3 linked regions of the Homo sapiens genome follow. The protein of the gene in region 1 interacts with the protein of each later gene in a biochemical or structural test. Each region holds a gene or a part of one and is shown on either strand. Other genes may lie near its edges. The genes, in order: TRPM1, PALS2 and DLG5.

What was found.
Region 2: the proteins of TRPM1 (region 1) and PALS2 interact in a test that uses a peptide from one of them, tested with the Homo sapiens proteins (one large-scale study listed by IntAct).
Region 3: the proteins of TRPM1 (region 1) and DLG5 interact in a test that uses a peptide from one of them, tested with the Homo sapiens proteins (one large-scale study listed by IntAct).

What each region holds. Positions count from the first base shown.
Region 1 is NC_000015.10:31,039,226-31,042,725, reverse strand, and holds part of TRPM1 (transient receptor potential cation channel subfamily M member 1), read left to right. Parts: intron 1-482; coding exon 483-775; intron 776-2,379; coding exon 2,380-2,608; intron 2,609-3,500.
Region 2 is NC_000007.14:24,691,407-24,694,757, forward strand, and holds the end of PALS2 (protein PALS2), read left to right. Parts: 3' UTR 1-2,787; downstream 2,788-3,351.
Region 3 is NC_000010.11:77,794,094-77,797,823, forward strand, and holds part of DLG5 (disks large homolog 5), read right to left. Parts: intron 2,502-3,730; coding exon 2,358-2,501; intron 2,096-2,357; coding exon 1,968-2,095; intron 866-1,967; coding exon 756-865; intron 25-755; coding exon 1-24. UniProt on the Homo sapiens protein: Acts as a regulator of the Hippo signaling pathway.

The sequences.
Region 1 (3,500 bases):
GGGAAACCTAAAACATTTTCTCTAGCCCCTTTTGCATGTTTCCTGTTAATTTCTGGTTCAGCTACGTCTGGCAAACGAGTGTTATTTTTGCTACATTTGAAGACCTCCCTGAGGAAATAAACTGTAGACCTTCCCTCTTCCATGATGTTATTTGTGTTTAGTTTTGGGGGAGGTTTTGCTTGTTTGTTTTAGTTTTGCAGCGTCGCCTCAGTTAAAGGCTTCTAAGTAAAACTGCTGACCCAGGGGTGCAAGTTATCCAAACAGTATGCCTTCTCAGTTCATTTGGTTTTAGATAGTTTACTTATCATAATAAACGTGTGCATCTTTTCAAAAGAATTCATATGCGGAGTGGAAATGTAAGATGTACTTCAGAAGTCTCTTTATTACCTCTGACAGAAAGGGTTCCCTTTCTCCAGGAGTTCTGGAACTCTTTGTTGCATACTTTTATGGCAAAACCATGAAATCCATGTTTCTCCCCTCAGGATGATGAGCCTCCAGCTAAAGGGAAGAAAAAGAAAAAGAAGAAAAAGGAGGAAGAGATCGACATTGATGTGGACGACCCTGCCGTGAGTCGGTTCCAGTATCCCTTCCACGAGCTGATGGTGTGGGCAGTGCTGATGAAACGCCAGAAAATGGCAGTGTTCCTCTGGCAGCGAGGGGAAGAGAGCATGGCCAAGGCCCTGGTGGCCTGCAAGCTCTACAAGGCCATGGCCCACGAGTCCTCCGAGAGTGATCTGGTGGATGACATCTCCCAGGACTTGGATAACAATTCCAAGTTAGTGTCTAGCGGGGATTTAAAGGCCAGGAGAGATGACCATCCTGAGTACTTGTCTCTGCAGGGAGGGGTGGCCAATGTACTTCTCACTTAAGGACAATGGTGGTTAAAGCTTGTTCACAAATCACTTCGTCTGTCATGTCAGCATTTTTCTTTCTGTCTCTCAGAGGTGTTTTTGGACTGTCGTTGTTTTTGTGTACTGCCTTCTCTTTGCATCAAAATTGAAACACAATTTTTTTCCTTTCCTTGAAACACAATTTTAATGCAAAGATGGTGAAATTAATTTCCATAGGGAAACACACACTAACAAGGAATACAACATTAATGAGCCTGTGCCCTGGACTGTGACCTGGACTGTGACCTTCACAGGTGTTTCTGATTTTGCTCCATGCTTAGGTGGGACAGGATGGCTAGAGGGGGCTGGAGTTGGGCGTGCTTCCCCTGGGTCAGTCAGGCTCTGATCAAACCAGCAGGTGAGGCTCTGGTAAAATTGGTTCTCCTGGCCGGGCACGGTGGCTCATGCCTGTAATCCCAGCACTTTGGGAGGCCGAGGTGGGCGGATCACAAGGTCAGGAGATCGAGACCATCCTGGCTAACATGGTGAAACCCCGTCTCTACTAAAATATATTTTAGCCCGGCGTAGTGGCGGGCGCCTGTAGTCCCAGCTACTCGGGAGGCTGAGGCAGGAGAAAGGCGTGGACCCAGGAAGTGGAGCTTGCAGTGAGCCGAGATTGCCCCACTGCACTCCAGCCTGGGTGATAGAGTGAGACTCCATCTCAAAAAAAAAAAAAGTTGAAGGAACTTGGAACGTTTATGGTTATTGCCAAATATTTGAATCTGGATCATGTGGGGAAGGCAGTAAACTTTATGCTCAAAATTCAGCTTGTGCCACCTTCTCCATGCCCCCCAACTTCTATCACTGTCCCCATCAGTCATTAGACGCCCTCTGGCCTGGGCCCTATGACAACTATGCCTCATCCCTGTCATAGCACTGAGAATGTTGGCTTCTCTGTAATCACTGTGATGGTGAAGTGTTACACGGGCAGAGAAAGGCATACATCCGAAATGTCCAGCTGGTGACAGTCCACAGGTGGGACATGCCGGCACCACCAGCACCCAGATCAACTAAGAACCTAGCCGGCACCCACCAGCCCTCCTGTGACTCCTTTCAGTGTCCACCTCCCGCCACCACCACCACCAGCAGCCCCGCTACTGTGGCCTCCAACTCCACAGGTGCTGCATTTGAAGTCACTTTTGCTGTCTTTTCTATCTGCCTCCCTGATCTGTGCACAACTTGAGGGAAGGGACTTTGTCTTCTCGTCTCTATGTCCCTGGGGTCTGAGGGGCAGATGTGGTCTCAACCTACAGCTCCATTTGCAGCAGTAGCAGTCAGCCCACCTCCTGACTGAGCTCCCAGCCACTGTCCCTGGCCTTCCCCCTTTGGGGACACATCCCTGGAGCTTCTTGCTTGCAGAGAACCTCAGAGCCCCTCCAGTGAAGGATACTGTGTCCCGTGGCTCCATAAGTCCTTGGTGGATATGCCTGTCTAAGAAACAGCTTGCGGCCACTGTGGCTTCACCCTGGTCCCTTCTCTTTCCCCCCAGAGACTTCGGCCAGCTTGCTTTGGAGTTATTAGACCAGTCCTATAAGCATGACGAGCAGATCGCTATGAAACTCCTGACCTACGAGCTGAAAAACTGGAGCAACTCGACCTGCCTCAAACTGGCCGTGGCAGCCAAACACCGGGACTTCATTGCTCACACCTGCAGCCAGATGCTGCTGACCGATATGTGGATGGGAAGACTGCGGATGCGGAAGAACCCCGGCCTGAAGGTGCGTGCAACGTGCTGCGAGGCGGGCCAGGGTGACAGTGACAAGTGACTCTCTGCCAGGCTGAACTGAGCACTTTCTGTGGCTTATTTCATTTATTCCTTCTAGCAACCCCCTGAGGGAGACGCCATGACAATCATTGTCTTATAGATGAGGAATCTGAAGCTTTGAGATGAAGTGACATGCCTAGGATCTTAGCTGGTCAGCATGGGATCAGAACCTACACTCAGGTGCTCTAACTCCAGAGCCCCACCTGACCAGCCCACCAGGCTGCACAAACCCCTGCCACAGTCAGAGTCTCCTAATGGAGCCCCCCATAACTCAGTATGCACACGCACCCTGGTTGGGTCGTCTACCCACCATTAAAGGAGGGACTGGAACTCTGTTTCTAGATTCCCTTATAACTCTGAAATTGTGTATTATTTTAACTAGTGATGTTTTCATGACATGGGAGAAAATTACAAGAAAATAGGAAGCTACGAAAGGGTTTGAAAAAGATATAGTGGGGGAAAAATTATATTGCAATCAAACCCTAGCTCTTGGGTTTACTGCTGTTAACTACTAGGTTATCTTGAGAAGAGATTCTAATCTGCAGATAACCTAGCAATCTAATGGCAGTATTATATCTATTTTAGAGCTCTCCATGAGGATAAAGAAAAGACTATACGAGTTACACTGTGTAGTATGGTTCTGGCAAATAGAGGGCACTTTGTTTCTTAGAAATGTGAATGTTATGCTTAACTGTCTAATTCTATATAATATGCTAAGCTGATGTTATACATAACTTAGGATATTAATAAACAGTTTTCAGAATTCCAAGAATAAAGAGCTCTTTAAGGTTTTCAGGAAACTAAAGTAGATCGCCTACATGGGGATGAACATCAAATTGGCATCA
Region 2 (3,351 bases), on another chromosome or scaffold:
ATATATATATATATATATATATATATATATATATATATACAGCTATGTGTATAATATGTAAAATTCTCCCAAAATGTATGAATATAAAACTGAATGTATTCATTCATGTAATTATAACTAGCATTCTAAAATTTTTAATTACTCCCATTTCTTTGACATTCTGAAACTTTTTTTAGATTGTTTTAAAACGCTCTGGTTCCACCTTGAAGCTGATAATCTTTCTGAAAAATATATGAGAAACTCAGAAAGTAGTCATTATTATAATAAATTTAATTTTCTTAGGGAAAAAGGGCAGGGTTCTGGATGGAAACCCCTTTGGAAATTCTTATTTAAACTTTTGAATGAATCTTTAATATGATTCAGGCTGAGATTATGATACCTGCCCTTGTCTTATTTCAAGAGGTTTGCTGTGAGAATTCATGTAATAACATCTGTAATGTATTTGGAATTTTTGGGAGAAATTCATTCTTTTAAATAATGGGATTATTGTATATAGTACAAATGAATACTCACAAAATTTAAGAATACATTTGACTAATAATTGAGCATCTTGTCAGTTTTTATGCAAGCATATATTGTATACCTGAGGAAGATGACAGTTCTATAATTTTTTTAAGGTAAGGTTATTTTTAAATTGCATTTTTGTTCTAACGTTTTGCAATTTATATTCTTTTTAAAATATTTCCCATAATTCATCATGCTAGCTTCTGTGTTCTTGGAATAGTTTTTGAAAAATGCAGAGATTCGAACATGAGTCCTTAATATACTAAACAGTGAAAGAATGATGATATCTCATTTCTAAAGTAAGCATGGTTCACACCACTTTGGCAATACACTGCAGTACTTTTTAAAAAATATTCTCTAGTGATAAAAGTAAAGACAGGGTACTGGCCAAGATCCTAATTCTGACTTCTGACTGTGTGATCTTCGATGAAATTTATATTTCCCTTTATCATTACTATTCTACTTGTTAAGTAAGGCTAAGTTAATATTTGTCTTCGCCTTAAATTCTGATTTGTAATTTGTAACTCTGATGTGGTAGCTGTGATATGGTGAACTGAAAAATCCTTATTAGGCTACTTTATCTGTTCTCTTTTAGTTATTTTAAAGTGTACCTGTTTCTGAAGTAATGTAGTGAATGGTGAATACTTTTCAGGAATTCTTCCAGTTTTAAAATAGCCCCAAAGATACAGTTTCAGCTGGTGGAAGGTCTGTTCTGCTCTCTTAGTCCTAATCAGAAAGTCCCTTTTATCTTATAATCCCATACTAAATCCAAACCCTTAGCAAATCCTTGCTGCCAACCAGACCACTCACAAATCAAACAAAATGTAAGCAAGCAATCCAGTACTCGGTTACACCAGAAGACTCTGATCTTTGCCCCCGAAAACTGTCCTACTTTATCCTTATACCTGAAATCACTGCATACCTGAAATCACTGCAGCCCTACTGTTTTACCCATACCATTAATTTAAAAAGGCATCTATTTCTTTATAGAAAGAAACATTCACAGTGAGGTCTTAGTTTGTGAACCTCAAAATCCAGATATTAATCCACTTTAGTTATTACTTTGTAATTGCTTCTCAGTCATTGGCTGATAATGCAATGGTGTGATAAATTTGACTTATCTCCACATACAAAAGTCGATCAGAAGGGATAGTTCTCTTCCTTTTTTTCCCCTCCTACTGGCTCTTACTGTTTTCTAATCTCCAGTGTAAATGGAATGAACACATCTATAGTTAAGGTAAATGCCACCAATCAGAAGATTGAGTGATTTACTGCTTGTAAAGCAACTGTCTTTGAATCTTATGAAATAGGTGGTGTTGCTACCACAGAAGCCAAAAAGGTCTTAAAATTGGAAATAGATGTCTTTATTGTACTTCAGCCAACAGCAAGCCAGGGGAAGGAACATACATAAATATGACAGGTCATATATGAAATTTGGCTCTCCTCCTATCAAAGTAGCCTAGGAGCTTGGAGGAAGCCTAATTAACTAAAACAGGAAAAAAGCATACTCATCTGATGTAAAAACTCATCAGCTGTAAATTACCAACATTAAACCAGAAGTCATTACCAGTTAAAATGTGTGGTTTTCATCTTATTCTTAAATAGGAGAGGTGGACAGTAGTGTAAGTAACATTGCTTTAAAGACATAAAGCTTGTCCTGGTAAACATGGTCTAAATGAGAAATGCCTCCATCTTTTCAGGTAGAACCAGATTTCAGGCATAGCTCAGCTACATCTGTATTTGAAATACAATAAAAATATTTCTTATGTCTCTGTATTCTCTTTTAAAAAGAACTGCTGACTGGCTCCTGTCTCTTCAGTAACACTGATTTTTTTTTAAAGAAGTGATATGTTGGACTCTGTTGTAGAAGAATGAGCACTAGTATTCAGCAACAAGTGCAATTTCTCCATGTTATGTTGAGCTCTGTTGGAGCCTATGGTGAGTATTTGATGTGAAAACCTTGCTGTGGGAATTTTTTATTCTTCCTTTTCCCCCCACGCCAGTTCGTTTTGGTAAGTCTTTTATTTGAACACAAGACGCATGCTTTTTTAAACCTCTAGTTTTTGAAGTAACTGTAGAAGAGAATCTTTAAAAAAAAAAATGGAGGGCAGAATGCTTGTTAGCAATCTGAAAATCAAAGCTGAACAAGCTGCTTAAAGTTTCTGATTAAGAAGTTTAAAAAGAAAAATTAATTGCTACTGCTTTCCAGGTAATTGTATTATTAGTTTCTGTATAAAAGAAACATTATTGCTGTTGTATAAATAAAATTTTCCTGTGGTACAATTAAGTATTGATTTTTCAGAAACTGTCCCTATAAATCTTTTCACATATTTCCATGTGCTGTCCAAAACAAAAATTATTGAAATGTCTAATCTGTGAGATTATATACTCCTGGTAAAATATTTTTGTATATATAAAGAAATATTTACTATTGGAAAAAAGTGTTTCATTTATAGGTAGAACTAAGGTTTAGAGATAATAATGGAGGATATCTGATTAGCGTTGATAATTTTTTTTAACTGTTTGCATTTTTTAACTTTTAGGTTTGGGGGCACATGTGAAGGTTTTGTTACATAGGTAAACACGTGTCACAGGGGTTTATTGTACATATTATTTCATCATCCAGATACTGAACCTGGTACCCAATAGTTATCTCTTCTGCTCCTCCCCCTCCTCCCACCCCCCACTCCAGTAGACCCCAGTGTCTGTTGTTTCCTTCTTTGTGTTTATAAGATACTATCATTTAGCTCCCACTTAGAAGTGAGAACATGCAGTATTTGGTTTTCTGTTCCTGTGTTAATTTGTTAAGGATAATGGCCTCCATCTCCATCCATATTCCTGCAAAAG
Region 3 (3,730 bases), on another chromosome or scaffold:
AGGTAGATGGGGTCTCTCTGCTCCCTGTGGGGACAGCCAGACACCAGGCTGAGCACTGAGCCTCCTCCAGGCCCTCTTTCCTTCCTCTGTCCAGGCTAACAGGGGCCCCATCAAGGCAGGGGTAGGCTGTGGAGGGAGGCCCCATGTGCTCCCCACATAAAGCACAGCAACAGCCTGTAGGCTGTCGGGGGAGCTCTGGGCAGATGGGGGAAGGAGGGCCCCCCAGCACACACACTTGGAACAGATGCACCAGCAGCCCCTAGCGCAGGTCCCAGAAGCTCAGCAGCACAGAAAGGCAAAATGGAGCAGGGCCTTGGTGAGCCCTTGGCCCAACCAGCACAGGAGCCGAAGCTCAGCGAAGGCAACGGCTCCTGAGTCATGAGCCAGCTCGGGGCTGAGTGGGACTGTGCCCAGGCCACTGGCTCCCCTGCTCCTAAGCAGCACGTAGCGAGGAAAGGGGGCTGGGGCAGGAGAGGGGAGCTGTGCAGACCAAGCTGGCCATGCCCAAAAAACAGTGGCAGCACCCAAATGGCGGAGGGGCGCGAGGAAGGGGCTGCGCTTGGCTGACACCACCTCTGAGTAGGGGACAGGGCCGACAGGGAAGGGTCATTTTCTACACGTACTGCCTATTTCAAGACCCATAGGCCCATCTCTCATTCCTCAACCCCCCACCCCAACACACCCTGCTCCCTACTTGGGCTCCCAGCCCCACCTGTGACAAGGCCCCAGCGGAGCCCAGGGGGCCAGTTACCTACTTGATGTGCTTGGCGCTCTTGTAGTGGATGAAGATGACAATGGGGTAGATGTGCATGTGGTGGAGCCGCTCAATAGCGTGCGGAGCAATGTCCAGGAGGCAGTGTCGGTTCTGGGGTGGGGGGTGCAGAGTGAGCCCTGGCGGGCAGTGAGGGGCAGCCAGCCCCCTGTCCTGCCACCAGCAGGACCCACCTCACCTCACAGGGCTCTACCCACAAACAAGGCAGTAAAGCCACACAGTACACCGTGGGGAAACCATACCCACGAAACTCCCAACAAACCCCACTTGCTGTGAGGAAGGCCAAGGCTGGGAGCCAGGGCTTAGGGGGCTAGGGGTGCTGGCCAGCCCAACTCCAAACTTCCTTTCCCGCCTTTGCCCAGATACAGGGACCTTCTGAAAGCCCTGCCCCACCCTGGCCTCTGAAGCCTTATTTTTGCCAGACTGAGCGAATGAAGAGCCAGAGTCTGGTGAGCCTTTGTGTGGCTGAGACTGAAATATGTCTGTCATGTCTGTCGTCCCAGGCATCCAGGTGGAGTGCAGGCCCGTGCACTCCCGACCCCCAGATGCTCCACTGGGGCATTCCCCCAAGTAGAGTTTGCCCACTTTCAGCAGTGAGAAGCCAACACCTTCATCTAACAGAGAAGGGAAGCAAAGCCCAGCGAGCGAGCTGAGCAGCCTGGAGAAATGGAGCCCAAGGAGCGGCTGTGTCCTTGGACTCCGAGTGTTTGCCCCACCAGCACTCCCCACAGACGTCCCCGCCCTCGTGCTGCCTAGGATGTTCGAAGGCACCGAGAGTCATAGCCCTTTTAGGGGCAGGGACCCTGAGGGAAGGCACGTTCCTGTCCCCAGAAGGTGCATGTGAAATTGTTCGGCACATGCATTTGGGGACCCCGTTCCGGAATGCCCTGCGAGAGGCCTTTCCGCAGAGCTCAATACTCTCATCAGAGATGAGACCCCCCGCACCTGCCAGAGAGGAAGATGGGGCGGCACATACACAGGGGAACTCCTCCATCCCCACCAAGGGATGTGCTTGCAGAAACACACAGCAGCCATGAGGGCAAGCCCAGGCACAGGTGAACTCAGACTAACACAACACGGTGGGCTCACTGAAGGTCTGAGCCGCTGGGGCAGAGGATCACGGACCAGGGGCCTAGACCTGTGCACAGGAGGTCTAATACTGGATGCCTAATCCTCAGACTGAAGCCCTGGGTACCTTTTCTGTGATCTCCTTTATTGACGCCACAGTGGTCACATCGAAATGGCCGCTTCTCCGCTTATAGTCGACAAACAGGCAATCTTTGACACCCCGCTCAATGGCCTGCTGGGAGGCCTTCATCACCTCTGCAATGCACAGACACAGGAATCAGGGAGCCCCAGGCCCTGCTGAGCCCCAGCAGAGGGAGCAGGGGAAGAACACTGCTCAGCAGCTGTCAGTAACCCAGTCCTGCCATGCATGAATCTGACCCATGTCAGCAGGCTTCTGGAACACTGTGAAATCTGCCCCCCGGTACTGCCACCCACTGTGCACAGCTGGGCAGGCAGGTGGACAGGGACATAGAGACAAAGAGCCCAGTAGGCACAGAGGGTGCCCCGTGCCCCTTACCAAGGGGACATCTGCAGAACTTGCCAGGAGCCTCATTCACCAGCATCTCCTTCACCACGTCCAGCAAAGGCCCCAGAATCAGGACAGGCCTCAGAGCGGTGCAGTCCACCTTCTGGACCCGCTGATAGGCCAGGCTCACCGAATCTGAGGGAGAGAGAGCAGCAGCGTCACGGACCCAGCTTGGAGTGGAGGACCTGAGTGGGGCTGGGGAACCCCGCTCCCTGACCTCGCCCACTCTGGTTTGCCTGGGACTCCCCCAGCTTCAGCACTGAAAATCTCGTGTCCCAGGCACAACCGGGCATCGTCACCCCTGGAGTCCAGCATGAGCACCCCCCATGCCCTCTGTGAACACCAGAGGCAGCTGGTCTCAACCACTCATCCCAGAGCTTCCTTCTGCTCTGATTTTTCCTCGTGGGTCGACGCCTGCTTCCCCTGCCCCATCTCCATTCTCCTCTGCTCTCTGGCAAGGCAGCCTCTGGGGTTTGGCAGGTAAAGCTCCCACTCCCCAGGAAGGTGTGGTCAGTGTAACCCAGACCTGCCCAGTGACAGGTGAGGCCTCCCCAATCTGCACGGCTAGAACAGGTGAGTGCTGTGAGCCAGCTCTGGCCATGCAGTTGAGGATAACCCTTAAGAAATGGCAGAGGCACAAGATGGAAGGGACCTGGGTCCTGGATGATCCTCAGAACGCAATGCCTCTCCCACATCAACCACAGCTCAGACTTGTACATGACAGAGAAATAAACTGCCCATTATGCTTAAGCCACTGTTATTTGGTTTCAGTTAAAGCAGTCAAACCAATATCCTAGTTGATACATGCAGTAAACCTCCCCTTGCACCAAATGAATAAAGTCCTTGCAGGGAGACACAGTCTAAAACCCAGCAAGATCTTCCTGGCGTCTCCCTGGTATAAGTCACTGTGCTGGAATCTCAGAAACATAATAAAGAATAGAACACAGAGTTCCTGCCATTAAAAAGCACACACTTTAACTAGAGTCACAACAGAGCAACACATGAACAGCAAGAGAGCACGCAAGAGCTGCCTGGCAATTCCAGGAGCGGCGGGCTTCAGTAGACACTGTGGCTGGATGACAGGGTGAAAAGACCACTTGGGCAGGCCCAGGAGGGAAGTGGGATGAGAGTCTCCAGAAAGAGCAGGGCAAGAGGATGAGTATGGAGATGATGGGGAGGGCAGAGCACAAGATGACTGCAGGCTTGGGAGGAAGGGTCCATGAGAGGCTTGGCCTGGAGGGATCTGTACGCATATGCAGAACAAGGAGTGACTGCAGAGCAGGCACAGGGACCAGGAGGCAGAAGGCTCAGGAGAACACAAGCACAGTGCCAGCTGCAGCAGCAGGCTCCATGAAGAGCAACCT